Regions from separate parts of the Homo sapiens genome. Here region 1 is linked to region 2. The links come from fine-mapping of genetic effects on gene expression. A gene starts in region 2. The other region holds a variant in brackets. All regions are shown on one strand. Distances are between the middles of the regions. Region 1 has its middle 23 kb from the start of PKDCC. Region 2 holds the start of LINC02898 (long intergenic non-protein coding RNA 2898).

Region 1 (4,387 bases), 120 kb after region 2:
CAGCCTGCAAAGTCCATTAGAATTGGTGGGATCTTGTGTGGCCAAGAGGAGCTGAGGCTGATGGCAGAGGCCAGTGCAAACGCAGGTTCTCCCCACCAGGGTCCAGATTCTTTCAAAGACATGCAGGCTATTACCTACAGTCCACATCTTTTGAATGACAGTTCCTGATCCACATCACCTTATGCCACCATTACCTCTGCTGCTGGACAAGGAGGGAGAGCCTGCTCATTTGTCCATCCATCAGCCTGTTTAGTCCATCCTCCTCTCCATCTGCCTTCCTTCTCCCTTCTGCCCTCCTGGGCTCTAATAACCTAGAGCCTACAGATACCTTCCTTTTCTTTTTCCTTCTTGGTGCCCAGGAAGCACAGCCAAAAGGCAGAAGCTCATAACCTGCCCATACTCCCAAACAGAAATGAACCCGGGAGGAGGGAGGGATGAGCAGCAGCTCCCTGTCCAGCTCAGCCCAGCCCAGCCAGGCTGGAGGAGCCTTGCAAATGAGAAAGGCCCAGGGCAGAGCCACGTACTCATATTGTAGGACTGAGGACTTACAATATCAGTATGACTGAGTTGGCTGCAGCCCATATGCTGGCTTCCTAGAAAATAGACCTGTCTCCTTTCTGAATGACAACTGAAAGCTGCTAAGAGAAGAGGAGATGCCCCTTGATATCTTTCTCAAGAACTTGTTTTTCCAAGAATAAATGGGATGCAAAAATCACCAAACATTGTTTCGCTACGAAACAGTGAACTGACCCAGTTGTAGTCATGCCTGTATCTAACCCCTCCAAACCACCATCCTACACCATCTCCATCCCTTTCACCAATCCACAGTACAGATGGTCCCCAAATGATGATGGTTCAACTTACAATTTTTCAACTTTATAACATGTGAAAGTTACACATATTCAGTAGAAACTGTACACTGAGCACCCATACGACCGTTCTGTTTTTCACTTTTAGTACAATATTCAATAAATTACATGAAATATTCAACCCATATTATAAAATAGGCTTTGTGTTAAATGATTTTGCCGAACTGTAGGATAATTAAAGTGCTCTGAGCATGTTTAAGATAGGCTAGGCTAAGCTGGATGTCTGGCAGATTAGGTGTATTAAATGCATCTTCAACTTACAATATTTTCAACTTACAATGGATTTATTGGGATGTAATCATGTCATGAGTCAAGGAGCACCTGTATGTAATTATTCTGTTAGAAACTGAAGTACCCCCAATCCAGCACGTATCCTTCCTTTTCCTCTCCCCATAGCTGCTTTGAGGCAGGGCTAAAGCCAAGGTGATCTGCACCACTGCCTCTTCCAAAAAGCCCCTCCCTCTTTTCCTTAAAGACTTTTGGCCGGGCGTGTTGGCTCACACCTGTAATCCCAGCACTTTGGGAGGCCGAGATGGGTGGATCACCTGAGGTCAGAAGTTCAAGACCAGCCTGGAAACCCTGTCACTACCAAAAACACAAAAATTAGCCAGGCGTGGTGGCAGGTGCCTGTAATCCCAGCTATTCAGTAGGCTGAGGCAGGAGAATCACTTGAACCCGGGAGGCAGAGGTTGCAGTGAGCCAAGATCATGCCACTGCACCCCAGCCTGGGCAACAGAGTAAGACTCCATCTCAAAAAATATAAAAAATAGGCTGGGTGCGGTGGCTCATGCTTGTAATCCCAGCACTTTGGGAGGCTGAGGCGGGTGGATCACGAGGTCAGGAGATTAAGACCATCCTGGCTAACATGGTGAAATCCTGTCTCTTCTAAAAATACAAAAAATTAGTCGGGCATGGTGGTGGGCATCTGTAGTCCCAGCTACTTGGGAGGCTGATGCAGGAGAATGGCATGAACCCGGGAGGCAGAGCTTGTAGTGAGCGGAGATCACGCCACTGCACTCCAGCCTGGGCGACAGAGTGAGACTCCGTCTCAAATAGATAAATAAATAAATAAATAAATAAATAAATAAATAAATAAAATAATAAACAAAAACGACTTTTGCCAGCTGGGCACGGTGGCTCAATCCCAACACTTTGGGAGGCTGAGGCGGGTGGATCACGAGGTCAGGAGATCGAGACCATCCTGGCTAACACAGTGAAACCCCATCTCTACTAAAAATACAAAAAAATTAGCCAGGCGTGGTGGGAGGC[G/A]CCTGTAGTCCCAGCTTCTCGGGAGGCTGAGGCAGGAGAATGGTGTGAATCCAGGAGGTGCAGCTTGCAGTGAGCTGAGATCACACCACTGCACTCCAGCCTGGGCAACAGAGCAAGACTCCATCTCAAAAAAAAAAAAAAAAGACTTTTGCCACCTCCAGGGGACCCTCTCCTTTCTTCTTCTCTGTTCATTCAGTCTTTGACCCTTCTAAGAAGGTAGATCCATCAATTAATAATTTAATCATATATACACACAAGTCCCATTTTCCTGTTTTGTTTAACAATGTTACCACTGGGTGATTCTCTCTGAAAACTTTCCAGGAGCCTAAGGGAGAGGACACGATGGAAGAAGGGTCTGGGAAACACACAAGGAGAGCTGGGAAATGTGTGGCTCTAGTAGGCCGCTCCTGAAGATGAGCAGAAATTCAGTTATTCCAGCCTTCTCCAAATCCAGAAGAAAGTATCCAAAGCTTAGCTGAGACTCTGGCCTTAACCTTAACCCTACCCCTGTGAGTCAGTGGATCTCAGACCAGGGAGAAGTCATTGGACGCAATAGAGGATGTTGCTGGGCCTTCCCCAGAGGTCACGGAGGAGGCGCTTTGGTCTAGTGGTTATGAGCTTCAGCCCTGAAGTAAAGCACCTGGTTCTGAATCCTGGCTCCATGAATTATGCCCATGGGACATTACACAGGTTCATTTCTATTGTTTAGCCTTAGTTTCTTCATGTGGGAAAGGGGATATTAATAGTACTTACCTGATAGGGTAGTTATGCAGTATAGAGTAATTCTGGTAAATCATTGAGCCTATCACATCCTAAGTTCTCAGTAAACATTAGCTATGATTATCATTACTGTGTTTTATTATTGGGCTCCAGACCCTGCCCTTCCCTAGAGGTCCAGAGAGAGGATGCCCGCCTCTCTGGGAGTGAGTGTGCCATGGGCCCATCCAGGCTACCCCAGCTCTGTATTCAACCAGATGTGGCTCTGTAAGTACAGCAGATGAGGCAGGCTGGGAGCGCCAGGAACTGGACAGGACCACCCATGGGGCTGCGGTAGGTGCTGGCAGGACGGCCTCAGCTGCAGCTGCTGGGCAGCTGTCCAGAGTGACAGGCAGAATGCAGTGTACAAGGGTGTGGAAACAGACAACAGGTGGCAGCTCAGCACCAGTTGGCGGCTGCAGAGGGGAGTGGCAGATTATCTAGCATTTGGTAACAGGGCGTTGCTACCAGCAGGTGGACCACAGCCATGGGCAGTTCCAGAGGGGTCTTCTGAAATGTAAGCAGGCAGGCAGCAAGAAGAAAGTCTGTCAGCAGATCCCGGAACCCAAAAAAGGCTAGATGGGGAGCGGGAAGGAGGGGAGAGGACCAGAAAGAGCAATGCAGGGCCTCAAGCCTGAAAGGACTAGACAGGTTGGCAGGAACCGGCCACAGACGCAGGACACAAGGAAGCCTGGCATGACCAGAGCCCAGGCACGCAGCAGCAGGAGCAGGAGGACTGCATGGGATTGGAGTACGGCAGGTCCTAATGTGGTGCAGCCCCTCCCCCACCCCTGAGCCCAGGCCAGGCCAATCGCCAGGGCAACCAGGGCAGGCCTGAGCCTGTGCTATCCCCAGGATGAGGGTGCAGAAAGGGAAGTTGGAGGTCATCGTGGGGGTAACTCCTCCCTCCTTCTCCCTGCCTCTCTTTCTCTCACACACACACATCTAGAGTTCTGTCCAGCTACTATATCAATTCTCCTGATTCTTGCCCTTTTGCATGCTTTCTCTTCCCTAGCTCCTACTTACTGATGAAGAAATAGAATCAACTCTCAAAATGAAAAGCCCACTCTATCAGAACCTAAACAGCCCTCCAACAGTCATCTGGTAAGTGACAGGTCCCTAGGCTTCTGCTCTGTGCCCCAATGGAAGGAGCAGTCTGCAGGAGGGGACGTGGCTAGAGAGGGCTAGACTCCCTCAATTGAGGAAGGAAGGTGAGGGTCCCCATAGCCCCTAACTTGGGTTCATCTCCCACATGTCTCCTTAGGCTTGGCTAACAACCCCCTCCATAGACTCCATTCTGGGCCTCTGTCATGCCAATGACCCCAGAAGACTTTGTCTTGGAGACTGGGTGACCTTGGGAGCCAGGCTCAAGCTTATCTATTCTAAACTCACATCTTCACAGAGGAAATGAACCTATATTCATCTCCATAAGATGCTAAGCCTCGCTTGTACATGTACATTAGCTCCTAAGCTTCACACACATTTTTATGGTT
Region 2 (4,387 bases):
TTGAAGGGGTCTGCAGCCCCCAAAGCGTTAAGAATCTCTGTGCTAGAGGAGCGAAAGCTCAGCACAGTTGCTAGAGTAGGACCTCAGGAAAAGTCCCTTCAGTTTTCAGCTCCAAATGGCCATCATCCATTTGGCTGATGCTAAGGCTAAGCAAGTCACTTAGCCTTTCTGTGCCTCAGTTTCATCTGTAAAATGAGGGACATCCCAGGGTTCATAAGATAATTGAATGATATGCAAATACAAAACTTTTTTTTTTTTTTTTGGACAGAGTCTCGCTCTGTCACCGAGGCTGGAGTGCAGTGGCGCGATCTCGGCTCACTGCAACCTCTGCCTCCTGAGTTCAAGTGATTCTCCTGCTTCAGCTTCCCAAGTAGCTAGGATTATAGGTGCCTGCCACGATGCCCGGCTAATTTTTGTATTTTTAGTAGAGACGGGTTTCACTATGTTGGCCAGGCTGGTCTCGAACTTCTGACATCAGGTGATCTGCCTGTCTTGGCCTCCCAAAGTACTGAGAATACAGGCGTGAGCCACCATGCCGGTCAGAATGCAAAACTCTGTTTATCCGTCTTGCTCTGTCACCAGGCTGGAGTGCAGTGGCATGATCTTGGCTCGCTGCAACCTCTGCCTCCCAAGTTCAAGCGATTCTCCCACCTTAGCCTCTTGAGTAGCTGGGATTGCAGGTGCCCACCAGCAGGTATGGCTAATTTTGGTATTTTTAGCAGAGACGGGGGTTTCACCATGTTGGCCAGGTTGGTCTCGAACTCCTGACCTCAGGTGATCTGCCCACCTCTGCCTCCCAAAGTGCTGGGATTACAGGCATGAGCCACTTTGCCCAGCCAAAACTCTTAACCCAACATCGAACACTTGGTAAGCACTCAATAAATGGAAGCCATTTTGATTATGATTATCAAAGTCTAGAACATAAAGTGGACTGTGTACATGCACTCTTTAGGAGCAGTCTTTTGGCCCCAAACTAGATTCTATGGGAATTCCCAGGTAAGATGCTTCTCCAAAATGAAGTGAAGCCATGTGACCCAGGGTCTTTAAACATTGCTTCCTCAAACCCTCCCCCAGTAGGGTACTTCTCCCCCAGAGGCATGGGGATCTGGCCACACTATAAGACAAACTTCTGGAAGTGGGGGCACATCAAGCGTCTGGGTGGTGCCAGTGCCTGGGCCTGAGCTAAAGTCTTCACCAGCCTGCCCCTTTTGGGGAAGCTTCTGACAATTTCGATTACCGAAATCTTCCTGCCTTTTGGGATAATACAGTCAAATGCTCCATTGAGACAGACTTCTGTATCTTTACAGGCCCTAGAATGAGACCAACCCAAGGCCCAGCATCTGCAGAATGTCCCGTGTAGAACCAGGAAGGAAAAACTAAACCACTCCTTTTCCCCTCTTCCCAACACACCCTTCTCTCCTCTCAGATCCTTGGAGTTCTCCGCACTCAGAACCTACAAGCTGCCCAGGGGTCTTCCAGACCAGCCCCAGTTGCTTCCAGCCTCCTTCCGCCAGCACATCTCTGCAGCCTTGGGCCACCGATCCTAAGCCAAAGCCTCCCCAACCTCTGGGCTCAGAAGCAGGTGTAATCCCAACTCCAGCAGGGAATTCCAGAGGTGAAGGTCACGGGAGCATCTTTAATCTTCGGTTCCCAGTAGAGAAGATACCCAAAGAGCAGGGAGCAGGAGCCAGCTCCAGGCTATACATTTGTTTATTCATCAATCATTCATTTATGCATTAATCATTCATTCCCCCCACCCATCAGTCATTCATCTGCTTATTTATTCATTCAATGTGTTTGTACCTTGTCCTTGCTTTGGTTACCGCAGATGTTGGTCCTCTCCTGCTTTGATCTGTCCCCTGTTTCTCTGGCAGCTGCACAGCAGAAGCCTTCTCATGTCCCTTGTTGGGTACTTGGCTGAGAGTGTGTCTCCCTCTCAGAGGTGCCTGAGGAAAATCAAAGGGACAGTGCAGAGCTGTCTGCTGCCTGCAAGTTCCCTTCCATTGCAAAATCCAGCCTTCTGGTCCGTAGGTCAGTGGGAGAGATTGGGAGGGGCTGCAGAGGGGTCTCCAGGCCCAATCGAGGAATAATGGTCTGGACATCCTCACCATGTGTGAGCTCTGGCTGTTTAAAAAATAAAAAAAATAAAAAAATAAATATACTGGTCCTTCTGGGAGAAAGGGGACTGCAGGAGACTCTAAGCCTCTGTGCCTGGTTCTGAGGCCTGAGCTCAGCACTTTGGCAGGCCCAGAGAACATGGTATGGGAAAACCTGGGGCTGGAGTTTCAGAGGCCTAAGCTGTGAGCCTTCTGACAGGTCTCCCACCTTCCATCCTTCCATCTACCTGACCCTGTAAAGTCTGTTCTCAGCCAGCAGCCAGAGATCCTTTAGTAAAAGACCACGTCCTGCCTGTGCTCAGAACCCTGCCCTGACTTTCAGTTCTCTCGGAGAAAAACCCAAGGCCCCACTTGATGGGGTCCCCCTCATCTCCCACTCACTCCCTCCATTCAGCCCCCACTGGCCCCATCCTTCCCGAACTCACCAGCCACACTCCAACCTTAGGGCTTTTGCTATAGTTGTTTCTTCTAGAACAGGCTTGACCTGGGTGACTTGCTTGAAAGTGACTCACTTTCTCACTTCCTTCAAGTCTTCGCTCAATTGAAACCTTCCCCATAAGCCTACCATGACCCATCCTATTTAAAACTGCAAAGCACACAGGCACGCGCGCACACACACACACACACACACACACACACACCACTCTCAACCCCCCTTCCTCTTTAGCACTCATCACCTTCTAACATAATACATAATTTACTTATTATTTTTACCATTTATTGTCTGTCTCTGCCTGCTCAAGTATAACTTCCAAAAGGGTAGGGGTCTTTGTATGTTTTCTTCCCTGATGTATCCCGAGGGTGGGCCATCCCATGGATGCCTGGTGTATAGCAGGAGCTAGTAAAACATTCCTTGGATGAAAGAATGAATGAGTGAATGGGCTGTAGGAAGCTCTGAGGATGAAGCTTGTGAAGCCACAGGCTGTGGAGTTTGGGGCTTCCTGGGGGTAGAATTTAGGAGGTCCACAGTGGCTTCTATCAGCTGTGCTGAGGAGAGAAGAGCCAGGCAAATTGCCCGCTGCCAGCCTTCTCGGGGAGGAAAGGTAGGCAGCAGCATCGGTGGGGATTGCGCTAACTCAAGGTGCCAGCTCCATGCTGCTCTGGGGCTGGCCAGCGCTCTGGATGTCATTAGCTGATTTGTTCTGCTCTGCAGAATGTACTTTTCATATTTAGGCAGAAAAAAACAGCTTTCGATCCTTGTGCCCTTTCTTCTGTGAGCTGTAGCACATGGCCTGCTAATTATGAATTAATCCTCTAAAGAGCATGTTCATTATTCTAATTTAATTGTGCTTCGTTTCAGAAAATAACTAAACCCAGCGTGGAATAAACTCCAATGCTGATCAGTTTTCAAGAAGTTAACATAAGACAAAATTCTGCTAGAGGGCAGCAGCAATTTGGAATCATTAAAGGGAACCCATGTAAATAATAAAAACAAAACTAAAATGCAGAATTAAATTAAGGAATAGGAAATTAAATTTGGGAATCTAATCTAAAATTGAGGCCTTATATGCACAGGCTTACCCTGGCTTGGCTCTTCGCTCAGGAGTGCTCAGGAGAGGAGGTTCTGCAGAGTTTCCCACGACCAGGGAAGCGGCAGTCCCTCCTGGGTGGCAGTTTGCTGTTCTGGGAAGAGAGATGTGGGCTGAAGTGGGAGAAAGGGGGCTTTCCTCCCACGGGGTCAACTGTGATGAAGATGAAAGCCACATTGTCACAGATGCATCTGGATAGCTCATCCTGAGCCCTGGTGACCGGTTCAGGAGAACTGCCTGCAGCCAAGAGTCCAAGCTGCCACTCACTAGGAGGAAGCACAGGAAATGAGGCAGATGGTGCTGGGTGGCTGCTGGCCTGAGATGCTGGGAGTGGTCAGCCCTGGGCAAAGAAGCCGCGCCAGCCCTCCTTCACCTTTGGGCCCTGGGCACCCTTCCACAGGTGACCCAGCTCAGGACAGAGGCTGAGGGAGTTTCCTCCTGCCCGGGCAGTGGCCCCTAAGCAGGGTCCTGGCCTCCCCACCATCACCGTGAGAGCCCAGTTACAGATGGAGGAGACCCGGACTCCAGCAGCATCATGACAGGTCAGGCCTCCACCAGGCAAAATGAGAAAGGGAGGATGGGAAGGACGGGGTGTGGGGAGGAGGAGAGAGCCAACTTATAAAGTGTCTGCAAGTCAGATGTACAGTCAGGGGCAGAGTTAGCACCATGGCTCAGGCTTCATTATGTATTGATTTTTTAGACCCTGTCCCTGGGGTATTCTTTTTCTCTCCATATTCCTAC

What was found. PIP is the estimated chance that this variant, and not a neighbour inherited with it, causes the effect. A credible set is the group of variants that fine-mapping cannot tell apart.
Region 1: its variant is the best candidate, but not a certain one, in a credible set for the expression of LINC02898 in lung (TOPMed, PIP 0.67).

Annotation. Positions count from the first base shown.
Region 1 is chr2:42,069,278-42,073,664 of GRCh38, forward strand. No RefSeq gene overlaps it. Among named protein-coding and RNA genes, the nearest start is that of PKDCC, 23 kb to the left of the region's middle. The variant G/A (reference allele first, on the strand shown) is at 2,139.
Region 2 is chr2:41,951,185-41,955,571 of GRCh38, forward strand. LINC02898 (long intergenic non-protein coding RNA 2898) reads right to left here and starts at 2,622. Exons shown (of 4, transcript NR_161189.1): 1 at 2,543-2,622; 2 at 1,804-2,124. LOC124905996 (a long non-coding RNA gene) reads left to right here. Exons shown (of 3, transcript XR_007086296.1): 3 at 1,427-1,865. RefSeq lists an enhancer at 2,358-2,497.